Linked DNA regions of Homo sapiens: all the other regions are linked to region 1. Evidence: fine-mapped expression QTL. A gene starts in region 1. Each other region holds a variant in brackets. All regions are shown on one strand. Distances are between the middles of the regions. Region 1 holds the start of RFX7 (regulatory factor X7). Region 2 overlaps RFX7 (regulatory factor X7). Region 3 holds the start of LOC124903498 (a long non-coding RNA gene). Region 4 has its middle 90 kb from the start of NEDD4.

Evidence for each region. PIP is the estimated chance that this variant, and not a neighbour inherited with it, causes the effect.
Region 2: its variant is the best candidate, but not a certain one, in a credible set for the expression of RFX7 in thyroid (GTEx, PIP 0.81).
Region 3: its variant is the best candidate, but not a certain one, in a credible set for the expression of RFX7 in subcutaneous fat (GTEx, PIP 0.55).
Region 4: its variant is the best candidate, but not a certain one, in a credible set for the expression of RFX7 in CD8 T cells (Kasela 2017, PIP 0.65).

Annotation. Positions count from the first base shown.
Region 1 is chr15:56,240,668-56,246,921 of GRCh38, reverse strand. It overlaps RFX7 (regulatory factor X7), which reads left to right and starts at 3,043. Exons shown (of 10, transcript NM_022841.7): 1 at 3,043-3,477; 2 at 3,635-3,797. The coding sequence starts at 3,637. LOC124903569 (laforin-like) reads left to right here and starts at 2,104. Exons shown (of 3, transcript XM_047433428.1): 1 at 2,104-2,188; 2 at 2,743-2,939; 3 at 3,040-3,571. The coding sequence starts at 2,104. The coding sequence ends at 3,489. It also overlaps a transcript of TEX9 not described here. RefSeq lists enhancers at 1,134-1,779, 2,018-2,067, 1,780-2,425, 2,426-3,071 and silencers at 2,318-2,367, 2,858-3,147, 3,298-3,357, 3,448-3,517.
Region 2 is chr15:56,106,098-56,112,351 of GRCh38, reverse strand. The region is part of intron 5 of RFX7 (regulatory factor X7); the gene reads left to right. Among named protein-coding and RNA genes, the nearest start is that of NEDD4, 120 kb to the right of the region's middle. The variant G/A (reference allele first, on the strand shown) is at 3,259.
Region 3 is chr15:56,145,120-56,151,373 of GRCh38, reverse strand. The region is part of intron 3 of RFX7 (regulatory factor X7); the gene reads left to right. It overlaps LOC124903498 (a long non-coding RNA gene), which reads right to left and starts at 1,969. Exons shown (of 2, transcript XR_007064648.1): 1 at 1,877-1,969. RefSeq lists a silencer at 1,229-1,523. The variant C/T (reference allele first, on the strand shown) is at 2,473.
Region 4 is chr15:56,080,129-56,086,382 of GRCh38, reverse strand. No RefSeq gene overlaps it. Among named protein-coding and RNA genes, the nearest start is that of NEDD4, 90 kb to the right of the region's middle. The variant G/C (reference allele first, on the strand shown) is at 3,816.

The sequences.
Region 1 (6,254 bases):
GTTTTCCTTATAGCAACCCTCTGATGTACATCATTATTTTCATTTTTATAGAGATCGAAACAGAGGGTTTGAATTCCCAGGTCTTCTGACTCCAAGGCCAGGTTTTTCTAACCCACTACATCAGTGTTCCTCAAAATTTTCCTCTGGTGTACACTTTCCCAGTAGAGAATAAACTTAGGCTCCTCAGGGTTGGGTAATACTTGTGTGTTATCTTAAAAAGTCATGCTTACTACAATGTCTTACCTTATTTACCAGAGAGTCAAAATGATGCTCAGAGAAAATGAGCCACATTGATTCTGGGTCCTTGAGGGTCCTCAGTACAGGGTTGCACAATCAAAGGAACCCACATAATATGAGAAGCACATGGCTACACTCCTGCCTTTATTCAGGGTCCCTGGGTTTGGCTTGAGTCCACACTCAAAATTTTGGGTAACTTCATCAGATTTCTTAATGTCATGATTTTATTCACAGTCTTCTCTGAAGACTGGAACAAAACACCCACTGTACTCCCAGATGTTAAGTGAGTAGTGAGGGCTGCCCCTTTCCTCCCTGAAAGGGTATCTCACTCTGGCAATAAGGTCTCCTCAGTCTGATACTCTCTGCCACCCCTCCCATTGCTGGTCTCCTTCAACTCCCTGTAGGTCCTGGAAGGCCGGAAAAGGTTTACCACCACACTCCGGTCAGCACCGCCGCTAGAGGGCAGCCCGCGGCTGCAGCTTCGTGAGCCCTCTAGTGGCTGCTGGGGTGACCTGGCTCTTTTATGGAACCCATTAAAAACTCTCAGAAGTTGCACTTGGGAAGCCAGCCTGTGTGACACCCGGTAGCGAACTTTTTATAAAACGTCTTGGTTCTCGGCTTCCTTTTCTTAAGGCCTTTGGCAGACCTTAGATACGTTACCCCCTCGATGACTCTCCCACTTCCTAAGGATCTCCCCCTCCCAGGGTGTTGCAACTTGGAGCCATCATTCTCTCTTGGCAAGGCAAAAAATTAGAACCTTGGGGAACTTGGCAACTTTCCTCAACGTGATATAGGGCATACACACACACACGTATATATATACCTACATTCAAGATTTTTCAGCGTAATTCCAGTTTCAGCATAGCTTGCAGGCTCTGGAATTAAACTTCCAGGACTCAAATTTTGGCTCCTGCATTTACTAATTGGGTAATTTTAAGAATGTTAATTAACCTAAGCTTCCATTTCATCTGTAACAGAGGGAGACTAATAATACCTACATTATACACTCTTGGGGAGGAATAACTATGATAATGTATGGAAAGTGCTAGTCTGGCACACAAAGTGTTCAACAAACATTAGCTATTTTTATCCTTCAAAGCTTCTGTCTAGTGCACACCATGTCTATCAATTAGGTCCACAAAAATACTGTCTTTACACACCCACATGAAGATATGTATGCAAAATGAATGTCGTAAACCACCTATAGTTTCCTAAAGTGGCTAAGCTAATAGAGACCTTAGAGTATGGAAAAGGGGGCTCATTTGTGTGATGCAACTCGTGCAATGGGTAGTTGGAGCACAGCGTAATCCAAGAGGCCCCGGGGGCGGGGGGGCGGCTTATTTTGCACACAGGTGTTCTTCCTCCCTGCACCCCCACCCTCAACCCTCACCACGTGCAAGCATTCAGTGTGAGTCTGGGCCTTAAGTCTGTGGGCCAGGAGAGAGGGCACAGTGGACAAAAGCAAGAGGGTTTCAGGCCAAGGCAGGGAACTGAGAACTCAAAGGCCAGGCAACCCAAGCCAATCAGATTCACCATCCACTAGGAGTCTAAAAGGTGGCAGAGCCCCACAGCCCAAAGTCCACACACAGCAGGAAAGTGGCCAGAGGATCTAACAGGTAGAAACCTGATAGACACTCTATCAGAAAAGTTAAAGCTGAAGGGCTCATAACACCCACGGGCCCAAAGAAAGGTCAGTGTGAGCTGAACAGCTGTTCCATTTGGTGCCAGAGGCCTTGGCTGTTGTATTCTACATCCACGCAGCCTCCCTGATCAGCCCCACCTAGAAAAGCCAATTCTTCTGCTCTTAAAGGAGACTGACTTATTTGTGGCAAAGCTATCATTTAGGTATGAATGGGAAGGGGGGGAATGGTGCGGAGTCTGCGGGGGGAGGGCGGGTGTTCAACGGGCTCCAAAGGAAGGAGCTCGTGGCTGACGCCTGAGCCTCCATGTTGTGAGTACTACATGCGTTTCTTTCAGAGGCAGGCAGTGGCCTTGGCTGCAGGGACCCTGACAAGCCGCGACTTGAGCTATGCTTTAGAGCCTGGGTGGAATTGGGAGCGGTATAAAGGAGGGAGGGCATTCCTGGAAAGGGGGTGGGGTGGGGTGGGGAGGTGGAGGGGAACAGCATGAGCAAAGGCACGAAGGAAGAATGAATCTGCTGCGCGTTGAGGATGGCATGGAGACTTCCCTGATTGGAGCCGGGAGTTCTTGCAGGGGGATGGAGGCCGCTATGATTGGATAGTTAAAGTGGGGCCAGATTTGGAGGGCTTTGAATGCCCGACCGAGGAGCACTCAACCCAGCTCCTGACTCGCGATTTCCGTTCAAGACCGAATTACCTAAAGGGTGGTTAATTCCAACGGGTGTTCTTCTTTGGGGGCTTCTGAAAAGTCAGTTTATCGTCTTACCTGCTTCAGTTCTCTTCATTTACTCAGGGAGGAAGTAATCCTCACATGCATGTGCAGGGGAAGGGGGATAATGTTGATTTCTCTTTACTTGCTTTGAAGATGCCTCCCCCGCCCAAATCCCATTTCCACGCCAAATATTATTAAATTTGGTTTCTCCTCCTCCTCCTCACGCAAGTTCTCTTTCTCTCGCCAGCACCTCCCCCACGTTTTCCTGCTCTCCACCAGCCGGGCCGGACTCCTCCCGGCCCCCAGCGGCGCGCTTCCCTGGCCCGCTGGCCCGCGCCGCCCTCCGCGCCGTGCGCCCCCATCCCGGCCCGTCGCGCCCGCGGCCCGCACACCCTGGTCCACGCCCCCCGGCGGAGCGGTAGGTGTTGTGCGGTCTGCGCCGGGCCGCAGTGCGGCTGCGCGCACTGGGCTGCCTCCGGGGCTGGCAGGGCAGCGGCGGCCGCGGCGGCGGCGGGGCCGGGAGCGAGCGGCGGCGGCGGCGGCGGCGTGGGGAGTGGCGTGGAGCGGTGCCTGGGGCTGCAGCAGCACGGGGACCCGGCAGTAGAAAGCCCCGGGGACAAGGAAGGAAGGCTTGGCCGCCAAATCCCTGAGCAACCGTTCTTCTTGGATTTTGGGGGGAGCCTGCCCCCCCCACTTCGTCTTCAAACGCCCCCATCTCACCCCCCCACAGCCCCGGCCGCTGACGGGAGGAGGCGGCGGCGCCAGCGGGGGGCTGAGGGGCGCCGCCATGCCTCTCCCGCGGTGAAGCGCCCCGGCCGTGAGGAGCCGCTGGTCTCCCCGGTGATGTTCCCCAGGCGGCAGGCGAAAGCGACTCACTCGAGCCCTGGGGTAAAGGCCTAGCTTATCCAGCTTCCTTCCTCCTCCTCCTCCTCTTCCCCTCCCCCTCCCCCTCCTCCTCTCCCCCCTTCGTCCTCCCCTCCCGGTCTCTTCCCTCACCCTTCCCCGCGCCCCCATCTTTCCCTCCCTCCCTCCCACCCCTCTGCAGCGATGGCAGAGGAACAACAACAGCCGCCACCACAGCAGCCTGATGCCCATCAGCAGCTTCCCCCCAGCGCCCCCAACTCGGGGGTGGCCCTGCCAGCCCTTGTGCCCGGGCTGCCAGGGACAGAGGCCAGCGCGCTGCAACACAAGATCAAGAACTCCATCTGGTAAGAGGATCCTCCATCGCTCGCGTGAAAAAGCCCAGGCACATTTCTGCTGCAAAGTGGGTGGGGGGCGGCGGGCGGGGGGAGCGGAGGAGGAGGCTGATGCATTCATTGAATGTGGCTTTCCCCAGTCGGGTGCACATTTGTAGGATCTCTGGAGGTGTGCGGACTTTGCATCAATCAGCCCCTGTCTTCTTAGCTAAAAAATGCTTTTACCCCTTCCTCAATTGTGAGTGCAGATAAACAAGTTTTTTGGTTTTATTTTTTCACTCATTGTAACAGAAATATGGGTCGAAATTAAGTCATATTGCATGATGGTGGCATGAATTTGGAACTGGAGAATGTGAAATGTGTTTACTCCTTTTTGCAGCCATAGAAGGAGGAAGAAGTGTATTGTGAATTTTCACCAAACAGATACTGTGCGTAAGAATATTAATATGCAGCACAAAACCTAATGTGTCTCTTCCTTTCAGTTGGGTTAGCTGCTATTTCTGAATGTTTTTGCCTCCCTTATCCTAATATTAAATTTCTTTTTCAGGGAGTTTATTCTTTGCATTGATTGTGAAGAAAGTGCTTTTTTAGTATAAAATATTTTAAGATGGTAGTTTACAACAAAGTGGTTTTTTTTTAAATTAAAATATAGGGAATCAAATGTCTTGCCATTTGTATGTCTTTTTAAAAGAAACCATTGATGGAATATCTTTCGCTATTTTACTTTCTTGTATGAAAATTTCCAATATTTCAGCATTAAACTCCTAAAGTCTAGTGGGAATCTTTTAATAATTAAATACACTAAGTCCATCCACTGTTAGAGCCATTGCAATATTCTTTGAACATGAACTTGCATTGTTTTGTAGGATGCTTCATTAACTGCCTTTTTTAAGTGTAGCAATATTTTTTAAATGGAAAGTAATATTTGGAATTTGGTCTAAGATTGCTTTTAATAGAAGTTTAAAAAGAATTTTATATGGTATTTTAAAAAGCCTTGATTTTGAAAATGGAAATGAAATCTTTGCAGGGCCATCATTGAATATGAGTACTAAAATATCAAAACTCATTTTCTCATTTTGAAAACATATCGTAAAGCAACTGGCGTTGCATGAACAGTATTTGCACATTTTTAAAGTGACAATTTTTAAATACAAGATTTAGGTTAGTTATATAGTAATTTTCATTATTTTCTTGGCATGCATCCATGCCGTCATGATGCTGATATGAAGTAGGTCAGTGCAGGCTTTAATAGTTTCATCAACAGTAGTTGGCAGTTGAGTATCTTGCTTTCAGTTTTAATTTTAAAATGAAGTTTAAATATTTTAAAGGAGAATTTTTTTGGCTTTGACAATAGTCATGTTGTGGCAACTTGAATAGGTCTGATAGATATGATTGGGGTGTGTGTGTGTGTGTGTGACAGAAAGCAGGCTTTATTCTTCAATGGATACCCTCACCCCCTTTTTAAAGCTATAATTTAAAAGAAGAGATGGTGAATATCTTGCTTGCCATCAAGGTTTTCACAAAACCAGTGTGTATGTGTGTGTGTTTTTAACCTCTAGTAACGTGACGTAACTTTGTGTTTCTGAAATCATCATTAAATTGAATTAAGCACCTTGGTTTTACATTCAGATGTGGGAAATCCAAGTTAATGGACTAAAATCTTTTAAGAGAGACAAATTTTAAAAGTTGAATGAGTAATGTATATTTTAATTGATTATGAGAACAAGAGGGGAAAGGAATCTTCACTTTATAGTTTTAAAATAAGTGAGTTGTGGAGGCAACTGACTGAAATGTTTGAATAATGATGATAGTCGAGTGCACTTTTTGGCAAATAATGTGTAAATTTAATTTTTTTTTATATTGGCACATCCATTACAGCCTAACTGCTCTGACTTTAACATGAGAAAAACTTCTGAAGTAGAGTGCACTCCAGTTTTTGGTACTTGCTCTGAAAAAATAATGGGCAGCAAACACGTGAATCCCAAAATATGAAAATTTATATTTTTGTTTTAAAATTGTAATGATACACTTATTGGCATCTAATGATCAACTTTAGAAATCCTATTTGCAAAAATGATTTTTATATACTTAAAATTTCGGAATAAACAACATTTGTAGATAATAAACAAAATTAGTAAATATACTTAATAGTGTCATACCCCCTGCTCCACAAGAATGGATTTATATTATTCATCAAGTGACTATGTAAAATAAAGATATCAAAAGTGAAAACTCCTTTACTACCATATATTCCTAAGAAATAGTATATATGTATTAAATCATTTTTAATAGATGATTGCAGTTAGATATTTCACATTTTTGAGACAATAATATTATTTTACAAATTATTTTATCACCTGATAATATTCTGAGAGACTATCAGTTTTGTACTACTTCCTGAATCATCCTTTGGTGCCATTATTAATGAGAGTTTAAAATTACACTCAAAAGAAATGTGACATTTAAAAA
Region 2 (6,254 bases), 130 kb after region 1:
TTCCAAATAAATTCTGGTCAGGATGCACTAAATTTATTTTTACAATTTACTAATGAAGCATTACTTTAATTTTGAAAAATACCGTACTAGTGCATAGCCAGTCTATGTTACAGTTACCTGTTTGAAGAGAGCTCTACCATCTTAGGCAAGTTATTTAATTTCTGAGTCCTCAGTTTTCTCATCTGCCAAATGAAAAGGCTGAACCAGGTTAGTGATTCTTTTTTTTTTTTTTTTTCTGGGGCAAAGTGTCCCTCTATTGCCCAGCCTGGAGTGCAGTGGCGAAATCTCAGCTCACTGCAACCTCCGCCTCCTGGGTTCAAGTGATTCTCCTGCCTCAGCCTCCCGAGTAGCTGGGACTATAGGCACACACCACCACGCCCGGCTAGTTTTTGTATTTTTAGTAGAGACAGGGTTTCACAATATTGGCCAGGCTGGTCTCGACCTCCTGACCTCGTGATCCACCCGCCTCGGCCTCCCAAAGTGCTGGGACTACAGGGATGAGCCACTGCACCTGGCATTAGTGATTCTTAATCCTGGTTGCACATGAGAAATACCTGGAGAACTTTTAGATACACTTGTCTGGATCCAGGTTTTTGCCCTCAGAATTTCTGATTCTGATTCTGATTTAATGGTTTTAGGGTGGGGCCTATGCCCTGGTATTGTTTTTTTGGTTTTTTTTTTTTTTTTTTTGGTTTATTTATTTTTTTATTGATCATTCTTGGGTGTTTCTCGCAGAGGGGGATTTGGCAGGGTCACAGGACAATAGTGGAGGGAAGGTCAGCAGATAAACAAGTGAACAAAGGTCTCTGGTTTTCCTAGGCAGAGGACCCTGCGGCCTTCCTCAGTGTTTGTGTCCCTGGGTACTTGAGATTAGGGAGTGGTGATGACTCTTAACGAGCATGCTGCCTTCAAGCGTCTGTTTAACAAAGCACATCTTGCACCGCCCTTAATCCATTTAACCCTGAGTGGACACAGCACATGTTTCAGAGAGCACCGGGTTGGGGGTAAGGTCACAGATCAACAGGATCCCAAGGAAGAAGAATTTTTCTTAGTACAGAACAAAATGAAAAGTCTCCCATGTCTACCTCTTTCTACACAGACACGGCAACCATCCGATTTCTCAATCTTTTCCCCACCTTTCCCCCCTTTCTATTCCACAAAACCGCCATTGTCATCCTGGCCCGTTCTCAATGAGCTGTTGGGTAAACCTCCCAGACGGGGTGGTGGCCGGGCAGAGGGGCTCCTCACTTCCCAGTAGGGGCGGCCGGGCAGAGGCGCCCCTCACCTCCCGGACAGGGTGGCTGGCCGGGTGGGGGGCTGACCCCCCCACCTCCCTCCCAGACGGGGTGGCTGGCCGGGCGGGGGGCTGACCCCCCCCACCTCCCTCCCGGACGGGGCAGCTGGCCGGGCAGAGGGGCTCCTCACTTCCCAGTAGGGGCGGCAGGGCAGAGGCTCCCCTCACCTCCCGGACGGGGCAGCTGGCCGGGCAGAGGGGCTCCTCACTTCCCAGTAGGGGCGGCAGGGCAGAGGCGCCCCTCACCTCCCGGACAGGGTGGCTGGCCGGGTGGGGGGCTGACCCCCCCACCTCCCTCCCAGACGGGGTGGCTGGCCGGGCGGGGGGCTGACCCCCCCCACCTCCCTCCCGGACGGGGCGGCTGGCCGGGCAGAGGGGCTCCTCACTTCCCAGTAGGGGCGGCCGGGCAGAGGCGCCCCTCACCTCCCGGACAGGGTGGCTGGCCGGGTGGGGGGCTGACCCCCCCACCTCCCTCCCAGACGGGGTGGCTGGCCGGGCGGGGGGCTGACCCCCCCCACCTCCCTCCCGGACGGGGCAGCTGGCCGGGCAGAGGGGCTCCTCACTTCCCAGTAGGGGCGGCAGGGCAGAGGCTCCCCTCGCCTCCCGGATGGGGCGGCTGGCCGGGCGGGGGGCTGACCCCCCCTCCCCCGGACGGGGCGGCTGGCCGGGCGGGGGGCTGACCCCCCCCACCTCCCTCCCGGACGAGGCGGCTGGCCAGGCGGGGGGCTGACCCCCCCCCCACCTCCCTCCCGGACGGGGCGGCTGGCCAGGCGGGGGGCTGACCCCCCCCCACCTCCCTCCCGGACGGGGCGGCTGGCCGGGCAGAGGGGCTCCTCACTTCCCAGTAGGGGCGGCCAGGCAGAGGCTCCCCTCACCTCCTGGACGGGGCGGCTGGCCAGGCGGGGGGCTGACCCCCCCACCTCCCTCCCGGACTGGGCGGCTGGCCGGGCGGGGGGCTGACCCCCCCACCTCCCTCCCAGACGGGGCGGCTGGCTGGGCAGAGGGGCTCCTCATTTTCCAGTAGGGGCGGCCGGGCAGAGGCGCCCCTCGCCTCCCGGACGGGGCGGCTGGCCGGGCAGGGGGCTGATCCCCCCACCTCCCTCCCGGATGGGGCGGCTGGCCAGGCGAGGGTCTGACCCCCCCATCTCCCTCCCGGACGGGGTGGCTGCCGGGCGGAGACACTCCTCACTTCCCAGACGGGGTGGCTGCCGGGCGGAGGGGCTCCTCACTTCTCAGACAGGGCGGCTGCTGGGCGGAGGGGCTCCTCACTTCTCAGACAGGGCGGTTGCCAGGCAGAGGGTCTCCTCACTTCTCAGACGGGGCGGCCGGGCAGAGACGCTCCTCACATCCCGGACGGGGCGACAGGGCAGAGGCGCTCCCCGCATCTCAGACGATGGGCGGCCGGACAGAGACGCTCCTCACTTCCTAGATGGGATGGCGGCAGGGAAGAGGCGCTCCTCACTTCCTAGATGGGATGGCGGCTGGGCAGAGACGCTCCTCACTTTCCAGACTGGGCAGCCAGGCAGAGGGGCTCCTCACATCCCAGACGATGGGCGGCCAGGCAGAGACGCTCCTCACCTCCCAGACCGGGTGGCGGCCAGGCAGAGGCTGCAATCTCGGCACTTTGGGAGGCCAAGGCAGGCTGCTGGGAGGTGGATGTTGTAGCGAGCCGAGATCACGCCACTGCACTCCAGCCTGGGCACCAATGAGCACTGAGTGAAGGAGACTCCGTCTGCAATCCCGGCACCTCGGGAGGCCGAGGCTGGCGGATCACTCGCGGTTAGGAGCTGGAGACCAGCCTGGCCAACACAGCGAAACCCCGTCTCCACCCAAAAAATACGAAAACCAGTCAGGCGTGGCGGCGCGCGCCTGCAATCGCAGGCACTCGGCAGGCTGAGGCAGGAGAATCAGGCAGGGAGGTTGCAGTGAGCCGAGATGGCAGCAGTACAGTCCAGCTTCGGCTC[G/A]GCATCAGAGGGAGACCGTGGAAAGAGGGAGAGGGAGAGGCAGAGGGAGTGGGAGAGGGAGAGGGAGAGGGAGAAGGTTTGTAGTTCTTGAAGAGGTCCTTCACTTCCCTTGTTAGCTGTATTGCTAGGTATTTTATTCTCTGTAGCAGTTGTGATTGGGAGTTCATTCATGATTTGGCTCTCTGCTTGTCTATTGATGTATAGGAATGCTTGTGATTTTTGCATATAGATTTTGTATTCTGAGACTTTGCTGAAGTTGCTTATCAGTTTAAAGAGTTTTTGGGCTGAGACAATAGGGTTTTCTAAATATAGGATCATGTTGTCTACAGACAGAGACAGTTTGACTTTGTCTCTTCCTATTTAAATATCCTTTCTTTCTTTCTCTTGCCTGATTGCCCTGGCCAGAACTTCCAGTACTATGTTGAATAGGAGTGGTAAGAGTACATTCTTGTCTTGTGCCGGTTTTCAAAAGGAATGCTTCCAGCTTTTGCCCATTCAGTATGATATTGGCTGTGTTTGTCATAAATAACTCTTATTATTTTGAGATATGTTCCATCAATACCTAGTTTATTGAGAGTTTCTAACATAAAGGGATATTGCATTTTTTCGAAGGCCTTTTCTGCATTTATTGAGAGAATCATGTGGTTTTTGTCATTGGTTCTGTTTATGTGATGGATGACATTTATTGATTTACATATGTTGAACCAACCTTGCTTCCCAGGGATGAAGCTGACTTGATGGTGGTGGATAAGCTTTTTGATATGCTGCTGGATTCAGTTTGCCAGTATTTTATTGAGGATTTTTGCATTGATGTTCGTCAGGGATACTGGCCTGAAGTTTTTTGTTGTGTCTCTGCCAGGATTTGGTATCAGGATGATGCTGGCCTCATAAAATGAGTTAGGGAGGAGTCCTTCCTTTTCAATTATTTGGGATAGTTTCAGAAGGAATGGTACCAGCTCCTCTTTGTACCTCTGGTAGAATTTGGCTTTGAGTCCATCTGGTCCTGGGCTTTTTTTGGTTGGTAGGCTATTTATTACTGCCTCAATTTCAGAACGTGTTATTGGTCTATTCAAAAATTCAACTTCTTCCTGGTTTAGTCTTGGGAGGGTGTATGTGTCCAGGAATTTTTCCATTTCTTCTAGATTTTCTAGTTTATTTGCGTAGAGGTGTTTATAGTATTCTCTGATGGTAGTTGTATTTCTGTGGGATCAGTGGCGATATCCCCTGTATCATTTTTTATTGGTTTATTATCATTTTTTATTGTTTTATCTGTGGGATCAGTGGCGATATCGCCTGCATCATTTTTTATTGCTATTTGATTCTTCTTTATTCATTCAGTATGCTTATAGTTATCAATTAGCAATAAAAATACCTCATCTGTTAAATAAAGGGATTAGTGCACCTCTCTGTGCAAGTTCCTCATCTATAAAATATGTTTAATAAAACTACCTGTCTTAAGGTTGTTGAGAGGATTAAATGATTTAACACAAAGAAAGCACTCAAAAAATGTCAGGTATGGTTAGGTATCCCATGACTATATTTTACCACAAGTCTTTTGTGATTCATTGTTTATATTTTTGTACCATTAAACAATGTTTACCTTTAACTTGTACAATTAAATTTGTGACATGAATGAATATTAAAGACTGAATTGTTACCATGGATTTTGAGTGATGTGTTCATAGTCATATTGAATATTAGGCTTAATTTCAGGCTTAAAAATGTACTTTTAAACAAGGAGCAAGAGAAAAAAAAAAACAATTCTTTCTTCTTTTTTTTTTTTTTTTTTTTTTTTTTGAGACGGAGTCTTGCTCTACTGCCCAGGCTGGAGTGCAGTGGCGCGATCTCGGCCCACTGCAAGCTCCGCCTCCTGGGTTCACGCCATTCTCCTGCCTCAGCCTCCCGAGTAACTGGGACTACAGGCGCCTGCCACCACGCCCAGCTAATTTTTTGTATTTTTAGTAGAGGCAGGGTTTCACCGTGTTAGCCAGGATGGTCTCGATCTCCTGACCTTGTGATCTGCCTGCCTCGGCCTCCCAAAGTGATGGGATTACGGGTGTGAAATTATTTCATTTTTAAAATGACATTAGAGTGTTAGTGATCGCGTAAACAGAACATTCTCCGTTCCTCACCCTTTTTTGAGTCTTGCAAAGTATAATCTGACACTGAGTTAAGAGTCAATTGACACTGTATCTTGCTTGGTCAACCTGCAGTTAACGTTGTGAAGCAGGAAAATGAGATGTAAACTAACCAAGATCTCCACATGGCCTGGAATGACCAATGGTTTGTTATATAGGACAAAATTGAATAAATATTATGTAAGTACTTACTAAATTAGATTTTTAAAAGAATCATTGAATATCTAGATTTTTCTTAATGGGGAAAGGTGTCCTATTGAAATTCTTTTTCTTTAAAAATTACAACCACTAGAAATTGGATAAGGCCACCTCACAATAAAGAGTCCTCCCCATCAAAGAAGGGTTCGTGTTGAGGTAACCCATCATTTAAGAGTATGACCATTTCTACATCTGGCAGGAAGTTGAACTATACAACTTCTGATTTATTTTTTCAATTCTAACATTTCACAAAATTAAAGAAATTGAGAACCTATTCTAGGTATTGTTCTTGTTGTTTTTACATTGATGCCCTCTTTATTTTCTGTTTGAAATGAGTTATCAAAGCATAAAGTTTTGAATCATAGGCAGTTTTCTTCTGACATGATTCAGGAGGAATAATTTGAGCTATTTATGTCTACAAAGTACTTTTAATATTTATCCACCAGAGTATTCGACAATGAGGTTGTTATATCCTTCCAAGAGGTAGAATAAGTATCAAAAACCAGATGGAATTGGATGATTTTGTGAAATAACCACACAATATAAATTGTATTGAAAAACAAATTTGGCATTGGTCATCTGTATACCAAGAAAGACAAGAAACTTTTTATCTGAGGAACGTGAGCTCTTTTAAATTACTGGGCCCAGTGAGGCATTAAA
Region 3 (6,254 bases), 96 kb after region 1:
GGGTTTCTGCCGAGAGAGCTGCTGTTAGTCTGATGGGCTTCCCTTTGTGGGTAACCTGACCTTTCTGTCTGGCTGCCCTTACCATTTTTTATTTCATTTCAACCTTGGTGAATCTGACGATTATGTGTCTTGGGGTTGCTCTTCTCGAGGAGTATCTTTGTGGTGGTCTCTGTATTTCCTAAATTTGAATGTTGGCCTGTCTTGCTCGGTTGGAGAAGTTCTGGATAATATCCTGAAGAGTGTTTTCCAACTTAGTTCCATTCTCCCTGTCACTTTCAGGTATACCAATCAAATGTAGATTTGGTCTTTTCACGTAGTCCCATATTTCTTGGAGGCTTGACTCGTACCTTTTTTTTTTCCCTCTAATCTTGTCTTCTCGCTTTATTTCATTAAGTTGATCTTCAGCTGATATCCTTTCTTCTGGTTGATCGATTTGGCTATTAATACTTGTGTATGCTACACGAAGTTCTCGTGCTGTGTTTTTCAGCTCCATCAGGTCATTTATGTTCTTCTCTACCTTGGTTATTCTAGTTAGCAATTCAACTAACCTTTTTTCAAGGTTATTAGCTTCCTTGCATTGGGTTAGAACCTGGTGCTTTAGCTCAAAGTTGTTCGTTATTACCCACCTTCTGAAGCCTACTTTTGTCAGTTCTTCAAACTCATTCTGCATCCAATTTTGTTCCCTTGCTGGCGAGGGGTTGTGATCCTTTGGAGGAGGAAAGGCGTTCTGGTTTTTGGAATTGTTAGCCGTTTTGCGTTGGTTTTCCCTCATCTTTGTGGATTTATCTACCTTTTGTCTTTGATGTTGGTGACCTTCCAGTGGGGTCTTTGAGTGGATGTGTTAACTCCCGACCCTGTTTGTCTGGGTATCACCAGCGGAGGCTGCAGAGCAGCAATGATTGCTGCCTGTTGTTTCCTCTGGAAGCTGCGACCCAGCGGAGCACCTGCCAGATGCCAGCCAGAGCTCTCCTGTATGAGGTGTCTGTCGGCCCCATCTGGGAGGTGTCTCCTAGTCAGTATACACAGGGGTCAGGGACCCACTTGAGGAGACAGACTGAGCCTTAGCAGAGCTGGAACGCTGCACTGGGAGTTCTGCTGCTCTCTTCAGAGCCATCAGGCAGGGATGTTTAAGTCTGCTATAAGCCACTGACTGGGGCTGCTGCCTGTTTTACAGAGATGCCCTGTCCAGAGAGGGGCAATCAGGCAGTCTGGCCACCGCAGCCTTGCTGAGCTGCAGTGGGCTCCACCCAGTTTGAACTTCCCAGCAGCTTTGTTTATCCTGTGGCTGTGAAACTGCCTACTCAAGCTTCAGCAATGGCCGACCCCCCCGCCCCACCCCGCAACCCCCCGACCAAGGTCGACTGTCTCAGGTGCATCTCAGATTGCTGCTGTGCTGGCAGCGAGAATTTCAAGCCAGCGGATCTTAGTTTCCTGGGCTCCGTGGGAGTGGGACCCGCTGAGCCAGACCACTTGACTCCCTGGCTTCAGCGCCCCTTTCCAGGGGAGTAAATGGTTCTGTCTTAGTGGCATTCCACATGCCACTGGGGTATGGCAAAGAAGAAAAAAAAAAAAGCTCCTGCATCTAGTTCGGTGTCTGCCCAATTGGCCAGCCAGTTCTGTGCTTGAAACCCAGGGCCCTGGTAGGGTAGTCACCAGAGGGAATCTCCTGGTTTGTGGGTTACGAAGACCATGGGACAAGCGCAGTGTCTGTGCTGGAGTTCTTCAGGCTCAGTCCCTCACAGCTTCCCTTGGGTAGGGGGGAAAATTCCCCGACACCTTGTGCTTCCCAGGTGAAGTGACGCCCCACCCTGCTTCGCCTCGCCCTCCGTGGGCTGCACACACATTCCAACCAGTCCCAGTGAGATGAACCAGGTACCTCAGTTGGAAGTGCAGAAATCACCCGCCTTCTGCATCAATCTCGCTGGGAATTGCAGACCGGTGCTGTTCCTGTCTGTTTCCACATTTTTATCTGCATATGTAAAAAGGATCCTTCAGTTTCCTCAAAGGTGCTAGAGGAAAGAGTCTAATTTTTATATTAATCAGGATGGGCTAATCTATGATGTTGTAACTAAGCCTGAAATACCAGTGGCCTAACCACAAAAATGTATTTTCATTCACATCATATGCAGCAGAAATCACTGAAGACCACTGTTCCAAATAATCCCTCAGAACCAACATTGACAGGAAGGCTGACATGTTATAGCTTCACCAGTGCAACACATGGCTTCCAAGGTGCCACAGAGGGGGAAATGGGATGGGGTGACACATTGATTTTTTTTTTTTTTTTTTTTGAGACGGAGTCTCGCTCTGTCGCTGAGGCTGGAGTGCAGTGGCGCAATCTCAGCTCACTGCAAGCTCCGCCTTCCGGGTTCACACCATTCTCCTGCCTCAGCCTCCCGAGTAGCTGGGACTACAGGCTCCCACCACCACGCCTGGCTAATTTTCTTTGTATTTTTAGTAGAGATGGGGTTT[C/T]ACCGTGTTAGCCAGGATGGTCTCAATCTCCTGACTTCATGATCCGCCCACCTCAGCCTCCCAAAGTTCTGGGATTACAGGCTTGAGCCACTGCCCCCGGCCGACACATTGATTCTTAACTGTCAGCTGAGTAGTGAATTACATCACTGTGATCAGATTCATAATAATCACATGACTACAAGCTAACTGCAAAGTGGACTGAGAAATGTAGGTGAGCAGATGGAATACTGTCTCTGTCCCATGTTTTCTTCACCTCTACACTTGCACCTCATAGAAAGAATTAGCTTCATGTTACTAGTTCTTATGTCAGTATTTTTTGTCAACCAAAGTTTTAGAAGGGAAGGGGGTTGCGTGGCAGGATTCAAACACCAAAGTCCACCTTCAACCTCCAAAAGCAACTTGATCTTACACTATGCCTTCATTTTCCCCTTGATCACATAATATAAAAATGAATGTTGAATCTGATTGTTTGCTACAGGCTTTTCTGTCCAGAATGTGAAAGGTCAAAGTACCATCTCAATCGTCATTAAGTTTGTAGCATTGTTGTGCTTTCATAGCTAAAAGTTCAGAAAAACCGTCTTCATAAATCTTTGCTTATGAAAATGGGATGATGACATGCAAGGTCGGCTCACTTGCTGGAAATAACCAAGGATATTTTTTGAAAATTCTCCAAAATTGTTTCCTGGAATGTGTTTGACATATAAATCAAACTTGAGTTCAAAGATTCCTTTTTAATATCTTTTTGCAAAGATTGAAGTGCATGAGAAAGAGGTCTTTTAAGTTTTCAGGCAAGATCTTCAACTGCAATAGTATGAAATTATCAGCTACCTCATTCAAAAGACTTGAATAATATTTGAGGTTCTGCCTAAATTTGAAACCGTTTTCACTAGCTTTTCTTTGAGAACTTCTTCAACTCAAGTAAGTGAAGACTTTTAAGTCTACAAATGTTGTTTGTCATTTAAGTTTCACTTCGAATCATCAGATATGTTTTCCAAATGTGCAAATCTCTGTTAAAAATTAGAGTTTTTAGGCTGGGCATGGTGGCTCACGCCTGTAATCCCAGCACTTTGGGAGGCCAAGGCAGGCGGATCATGAGGTCAGGAGATCGAGACCATCCTCGCTAACACGGTGAAACCCTGTGTCTACTAAAAATGCAAAAAATTGGCTGGGCCTGGTGGCGGGTGCCAGTAGTCCCAGCTGCTCGGAAGGCTGAGTCAGGAGAATGGTGTGAACCCGGGGGGCGGAGCTTGCAGTGAGCTGAGATTGCACCACTGCACTCCAGCCTGGGCGACACAGCAAGACTCCACCTCAAAAAAAAAAAAATTAGATTTTTTATTGTAGTAAAATATACATAGCATAAAATTTACCATTAGTGATATTTAGTACATTAACTGTGTTGTACAAGTACCATCTGAATCTAGTTTCAAAACCTTTTCCTCACCCCAAAAGGAAACTCAGTACCCTTTAAGCAGTCATCTGCCTCTGGGAAACACTAAGCTGCTTTCTGTCCCTAGGGATTTGCCTATTTTGGATATTTAATATAAACAGAATCACATGATATGTGTCTGGCTTCTTTCACTTAGCACGATGTTTTCAAGGTTCATCCATGTTGTAGCATGTATCAGTACTCCATTCCTTTTATGGCTAAATAAAAAATTATAATTTTTAAAGTTTATGAAGTTGGTCTTTTCTCTGGTGCTCCAAAAATAGAATACCATTATGATTTATTTTATAAATCCAGCCAAAGGAATTTTTTTTGACCACCAACGAATTTCAACATAGAACAGAAAACTTTTAATTCTTATCATTTAAATTGTCATAAAGCATATCAAATAATCAGATGTTTAACATACTTGCCACATGATACTCTTGCCTTGACAATCAAGCAAGGTTAGGGTCTTCTCCTAAACCAGTGAGCATTGTTTCAGAAGCCACTAATTAGCAGTGGATGACACAGTATATCCAAAACCAGAAATCTTGATGATGAGCCCAGCCTTGCTGGACTGAAATGCCATCACTATACACTTGAGTCATTTTTTTTGTTTGCTTTATAGAATTTTGTTATTATCAGTTTTCATGCTGCTCTCCAAATTTTTTCTTCTATGTGTTGTACCCCATATGGCAATGAAAACAGTAATTGAACAGTTACAAGTTTTCATTGTTTTAAAAAAAATTAGGACACTGACTTTAATCTTTTTCAAAACTTTTTTTTGCCATCTTCTAAATCATCTCTTTGGTGCTTAATACTAATTTAGAACATCTTCTGAAATTTCTTCTATGTTCTGGAATTTCTTTTCTATTCTTTTTTCCAGTATATTTAAAATTTGAAAGCTATATAGAATCCAAGGTTTCTCCAACAGTAGATTTTTTTCTTTATGATCAAAAATGATATTTTTATTACACTTTCTCAGACATGGCTCATAATATTAGGTATTTTATTATTATAACCTTCTCTTAATTTAATATGATTGGCATTGGTGTGATTAAGTGGGTGATGTTAATAATATTTGACAGTAGTTCATACCTAGCATCCCAGCACTTTGGGAGGCAGGAGGATCACTTGAGGCCAGGCAGGAATTCCAGACCAGCCTAGGCAACAATTTTGTAGCAACAAGCTACAAAAAATAAATTAAAAAATTATGTGGCTGTGGTGGCACGCACCTCTGGCCCCAACTACTTGGGAGGCTGAGGTGGGATGATCAGTTGAGCCCAGGAGTTTGAGGCTGCAGTGAGCTATGATTAAGCCACTGCAATTCAATCTGGGCAACAGAGTGAGACTCTCTTAAAAAAAACAATTTGACAAAAAAAAATTTCAGGAACCATATTTAAGACATTAAAGTGGGGTGACATCGGAGGTAGGAAAACCAGCTGGTTAGACATTTTAGAAATTTAAGTGTCATTAAAAGTTCATTAAGGGCAAGAACTGTGGTGGTGGTGTGTTGTTCATCTTTGTTGTATTGTTCACTCTTTGTATGATTTGTGATACATAGTATAGGTTCATAGTTATTTTATGCCACTTGTGGAACATAGCAGAAAACAAAAGTAATGCATAAGCAAACGAATTATCCTTATTCTTGAAAGAAAGACAGCTGAAGACCTAGACTACTGTGGTGGCAGTGAAAAATCGAGACTGGAAGAAGATGGGGCAGAGTGTTAGAGGGCTAAATAAAGGATTAATGTGGAATGCACCAAGAGAAAAAGAGTTAAACACACTCCCAAACTGAACACTGTGGAAACTAGAGAAAAGAAGGTGATGATAAGTAGCAATTAAGAAGAGAATGTGTGTTTGTTTTCTTTGAGGGGAGAGCTACACAAGGGTATAGCTGATAACATTAGGTATTGGAGCAAGAGCCAATTGGAAAATACCTGTAGGCCATGGGATTTTAAAAATGTAAATTTGGGAGCTATTTGCATGTGATTGATTAAATCATTATGTGGATGGATTCTAAGATTAAACTTTTGTGGATATCTTCTGATAAGACTAAGAATAGGCTTGGTTATATCATGTTAAGTATTTTCAAAAACTGAATCTCTGTTTAAACTGTGCTTTATTAAGTAAGAATAAATTCTACCAGGAATGCCAGTAATCTGTCCACATTTTTCATTGCAATGGAATTTTGCTTAGATTAGGCTACCAGAATTTTACTATGAATATTTTTATTATAATAGGATTTGTGGCACATTTGGAGCCATTATGGCAAACTGAGTTTAGAAGAAAGGTAGGAAGGCAAAAATTATTTTAAAGGTTACATTTAGAGACAAAATGACATAGTTGCAGAACA
Region 4 (6,254 bases), 160 kb after region 1:
CCCTGATAATCAGCTCAACCATATTGTTCCAGGAGTCATTTCTGGAGGTAGTCTAAAGCCTGTTTTTCCACTTACAGTTGTCCCTCAGTATCTGGGCAGGGATTGGTTCCAGGATCCCTAGGGATAATGAAATCTGCAGATGCTCCAGTCCCTTACATAAAATGGCAAATGGCATAGCATTTGCATATAGCCTATGCACATCCTCCTGTATACTTTAAGTCATCTATAGATTACTTATAAAACCTAATGCAAGCCAGGCACGGTGGCTCAGGCCTGTAATCCCAGCACTTTAGGAGGCTGAGGCAGGTGGATCACTTGAGGTCAGGAGTTCGAGACCAGCTCGGCCAACATGAGGAAACCCTGTCTCAACTAAAAATACAAAAATTAGCCAGGCATGGTGGTGCACTCCTGTAATCCCAGCTACTTGGGAGGCTGAGGCTGGAGAATTGCTCGTACCCAGGAGGCGGAGGTTGCAGTGAGCCAAGATCGCATCACTGCACTCCAGCCTGGGCAACAAAGAAAGATTCCATCTCAAAAAAAAAAAAAATGCAGTGTAAATACTATGTAAATAGTGGTTATACTTTATTATTTTTATTGGTATATTTTTCTTGTTGTATTATTTATTGGCTTTTTATCCCAAATATTTTCAATCTGTGGTTGGTTCAATCTACAGATGAGGAACCTATGGTATGAAGGGCCAACTGTATTTATAAGCACTTAAACCTCTGCATTAAATCCTTTTCTGTTTAAAATACCTAGAATAAACATTTTCTACACTCCACCCTGACTCATAACATATGCCTATAGGCTAGGAGTCAAGAACATCTTAGATCTGGACCCGGTTCTATCATTCTTCTACCGTCTCTGCACTTTAAGAAATAATGATCCCTGTCCTAGTTACTTCCCAGAATCTTGTGAGTCTCTGTGAAATATGACAATATGTTGTAAACCCTAAGTCTAAGAGGTTATCATTATCATAAATACCTGTGTGAAAGAACAGACATTTATCTGAGAGTGGGAAAAATTATTGTCCTTTTTAGCACTTAAATGTTATATTTTACCTGAAGCCTCCTTCTACCCCCACCACATACACATGTGTCAGAAGGTAAAGTATAAATCCATATTCAGAAAGGCACTGAACTTTGAATTAATGGCAATAAACAAGAAATAAGTGTTAGTAACCATTTTAATTTAAGCCAAGCTATATCTGAGCATATTTGTTTAACATAGATTATTTGAATCACGAGATCTCTTGTATTTGGACTTCACGTGTTTGAAACACACAGTATAAATTTCCTACCACAAACCCATTCCTAGTTAACATATCTCTTTACTGAATCCTTCATAGTCTTAGCTCATCTTCATAACAGTTCTGAGATTGCTGCCTTAAGAAGTACTGGTAATTTCATAATTGATAAGCCAAGTCCCTGTTCGTTTGGTTTCTATGACTTTGTATTCTCATTCACCTTCTACCTCTCAGATCCTTCATTCTTGGACTCTTTCAGGGACCAGCTTCCTCTACCTATTATTTAAATATAAAAATTCTTTGACATTCTGTCATTGGTTCTTCTCTTATTATTCTACTTTCTCTCCCTAGTCATTTCAGAAACTCCTACAGCTCTATTGATGGCCTCCAAATCTAAATTTTCACATTTGACCTCTCTATTTACTTCCAGTCTTAAAATCTAAATGCCCAAACTGACACACCTTCTCTTTTTCTCCAACCTTCTCCGCTTCCTATTTTCTGTTAACAATGTTATCACTGCAGTTACCAGTTGAAAGCTCACACAGCCAGGCATGCTGGCTCACGCCTGTAATCCCAGCACTTTGGGAGGCTGAGGTGGGTGGATCACTTGAGGCCAGGGGTTTGAGACCAGCCTGGCCAACATGGCAAAAACCCATCTCTACTAAAAATACAAAAATTAGCCAGGCATGGTGGTGGGCGCCTGTAATCCCAGCTACTTGGGAGGCTGAGGCAGGAGAATCACTTGAACCCAGGAGGCTGAGGTTGCAGTGAGCCAAAATCACACCACTGCACTCCAGCCTGGGTAACAGAAAAAAAAGAAAAAAGAAAACTCACATGCCCTTTCCTTCACCCTTTCCTCAACATCAAATGAGTTTCTAAGTCCCATACCTTTGAAATACATATCTATTTGTTTCTTCCTTTCCTTCCTGACCCTGCCTTGGTTGATGGATGAATTTCTCATTTGAAATACCAAATTATTTATAACTTCTGTAATAATTTCTGTACAATGCCATCATAGTAGTCCTTAACTCAAAAGCCTTTGATATTCAGAAGTCAATAGCCTTCATAGATATAAGCAATAACTAGTTAGAAGATACAACGCAAGAGAAGATCCTTTATTATTATTTTTTATCATTATTATACTTTAAATTCTATGGTACATGTGCACAACGTGCAGGTTTGTTACATATGTATACATGTGTCATGTTGGTGTGCTGCACCCATTAACTTGTCATCTATATCAGGTATATCTCCTAATGCTATCCCTCCCTCCTTCTGCCACCCCACGACAGGCCCCAGTGTGTGATGTTCCCCACCCTGTGTCCAAGTGTTCTCATTGTTCAAGTCCCGCCTATAAGTCAGAACATGCGGTGTTTGGTTTTCTGTCCTTGAGATAGTTTGCTGAGAATGATGGTTTCCAGCTTCATCCATGTCCCTACAAAGGACATGAACTCGTCATTTTTTATAGCTGCATAGTATTCCATGGTGTATATGTGCCACATTTTCTTAATCCAGTCTATCATTGATGGACATTTGGGTTGGTTCCAAGTCTTTGCTATCGTGAATAGTGCTACAGTAAACATACGTGTGCATGTGTCTTTATAGCAGCATGATTTATAGTCCTTTGGGTATATGCCCAGTAATGGGATGGCTGGGTTAAATGATATTTCTAGTTCTAGATCCTTGAGTAATCACCACACTGTCGAGAAGACCCTTTTTATGCTAATAACAAAAAAGATAAAATATCCAAGCATGAACTTAAGAAATATATAAAATTTATATAAAGAACACCTTTAAAACACTTCTACTGGCTGGGTACAATGTTTCACACCTGTAATCCCAGCACTTTGGGAGGCCGAGGCAGGTGGATCACATGAGGTCAGGAGTTAGAGACCAGCCTGGCCGACATGGTGAAACCCCGTCTCTACTAAAATTATAAAAATTAGCCGGGCACAGTGGTGGGCGCCTGTAATCCCAGCTACTCAGGAGGCTGAGCCAGGAGAATCAATTGAACTCGGGAGGCGGAGGCTGCAGTGAGCCAAGATCATGCCATCACACTCTAGCCTGGGCGACAGAGTGAGACTCCGTCTCAAAAAAAACAAAAGCCTCTTTCACTGAAAGGTCCAAGGTAGACCAGAGCAAATGGAACAGGAAAACGTACTTAGATGAGAAGAGTCAACATCGTAAAGACATCAATGCCCCGTAAGTTAATTAATACATTTAACATGATTCCCACAAAAATGCCAATTCTTTTCTAGAGCTTGGAAAATTGGATATACATTTAAAATGAGAACACAGATAAGTATAGCCCAAAAAATCCGAAAAGAAAGGAGTGTCTGAAGAGCTAGCCCAACAAGGTATTACATATAGCGTCACATGGCAAAAAGGCCCTATAAGTAATGTCAGGCAACAAATGACAAACTAGGAAGAGATATTGCAACTTATATCACATACATACCCCTTTATATTCGTATTAGGGGTAATATCCCTAATATGGAAAGAAGTCCTAAAATGGTGGGAGGCAGAAGGCCAAAATCTAATAGAAAAATGGGTAAAGGATATTAACAGA[G/C]AGCTCACAGAAAAAGAAATGGTCATTGTGTAAGAGGTGTTCAAACCAGAGCAACTCCATCTTGAACATGGACTGGCTGGGTAAAATGAAGCTGAGACCTGCTGGGCCACATTCCCAACAGGTTAGCCATTCATAGCCAAAGGATGTTTACGGTTAAAAGAAATAGGTTAATAATGTTAAAGGAACACGTTAATAATGTTTACTGAATTGACCCAGGACTTAACAGACCCAGGATATAACAGACCCAGGAAATGTCCTGGTGTCCCAATATCTTAAAAACAAAAGCACTTTTAGTTTAAGAATAAGTTTTGCTTTCAACATAATAATATAGATTATCGCAGAAGACAGCAGTTATACAAAGATTAGCAATCTTTTGTGACAAACCCTTGTAGTAGAATACATCTCCCCATGATTTTTTGCTTTGTTATCTTATGTACAAACAAGCATGGCACCTAAGGCGAACATGTTCCTCCTCTTGCTTTTGGGAATACCCTGCTCTGTCTATGGAGTGCTATTCTTTCTTTACTTCAATAAACTTACTTTCACTTTACCCTATGGACTCACCCCTAATTCTTTCTTTCACGAGCCCTCTCTTGGGGTCTGGATCAGGACTCCTTTCCAGTAACACTTAGACATGAAAAAAAAAAATGTTCAGTCTGACTCATAATAAGAGAAATACAATTAAAACTACACCAAGATACCACTTCTCACTTAGGTTGGCGAAAATCTAAGTTTGACACCATCCTCTGTGGGAAACACTGTGAGACACAGGCATTCTATATTGTTTTCTTGCACATTTCCTAGGAATTTTCTAGACAACAAATTTTGGACATCCAAATGACTAGAGAGAAGTCAACCTAAGGACTGGCATTGAGCATTAAATACCTATTGTAAAACTAAGACTACATGAGGTTAAAGAGGAGAGAGTATATACTATGTACTGGACACATCATCTGAAAATGTACATACAACTAAAGAACGTGGAAAGTGCCTATGCAAATAATTTTTTAACTTTTTCAATAAGATGTGTGTTGATAAAATAGGTGATTTCACTGAGACTGTTGTATATGTAATGTAAGACAATGCAAACTAATTGTGTGATATTCTAGTTTTATATTTCTTAGGTCCCTGAGAACCTGGACTCTCAGAAGAAAGGCTATGCCTGTGTAAGAAAGAAGTTTTAAGTAAAAACTCTGCAGTCCTGACTTTGAATTCCAAGTATCAGCATGAACTCATGGAACATCTTGGTGTACAATAGCAAGGAAGCTTCCAAAGACTATAGAGGTCATGTCAAAAAGACTCAAGAGCCAACTTGCAGAAGCTGCCACTGGACACAGATGGGACAATGTAAGCTCAATAAGGATGATAACTTCAGCAGATCAAAACACTTAAAATATGTTTAAGTCTATGAGTTTTAATGATCCTAAAAAATTAACTGCTCACCTTTTGAGGATGATAGGTAACCAACTTATTTTAATTGATAAAGAGAAAGAAACAAATATTTATCCTGCCTTTCCTTTGTGAGCTGGACCACTGGATAACGAAATAATAGATAAGGGGGGATGCTCTAGTTATAAATATTCTAGCATCCCAGCACTTTGGGAGGCCGAGATGGGTAGATTACTTGAGGCCAGAAGTTCAAGACCAGCCTGGTCAGCATGGTGAAACCCCGTCTCTAATAAAAAATACAAAAATTAGCTGGGCGTGTTGGTGTGCACCTGTAACCCCAGCTACTCGGCGGCTGAGGCAGGAGAATTGCTTGAACCTGGGAGGCGGAGGTTGCAGTGAGCCAAGATCGCACCATTGCACTCCAGCCTGGGTGACAAGAGCAAGATTCTGTCTCAAAAAAAGAAAGAAAAAAAGAAAAGAAAAGAAAAGAAAAGGAAAAGAAATATTCTATCTAATGAATGAGGAAGGAATGACATAATGCCATTGAGTGTAATGGCAAAAACCACAATTACTTTTTTTTTTTTTTTTTTGAGACAGAGTCTCACTTTGTTGCCCAGGCTGGAGTGCAGTGGTGCAATCTTGGCTCACTGCAAACCTCTGTCCCTCCAGTTCAAGCAATTCTCCTGCCTCAGCCTCCCGAGTAGCTGGGATTACAGGTGTGTGCCACCAACCCCGGCTAATTTTTGTGTGTTTTTCAGTAGAGATGGGGTTTCACCATGTTGGCCAGGCTGGTCTCAAACTCTTGACCTCTGATGATCCACCCGCCTCAGCCTCCCAAAGTGCTGGGATTACAGGTGTGAGCCATTGCACCCAGCTCAACCGCAATTACTTTTGTGCCAACCTACTAACATTACAGGCAAAGACTTCAGGTCTAAAACACCAAAAGCAATGGCAACAAAAGCCAAAATTGACAAATGAGATCTAATTAAACTAAAGAGCTTCTGCACAGCAAAAGGAATTATCATCAGAGTGAACAAGCAACCTACAGAA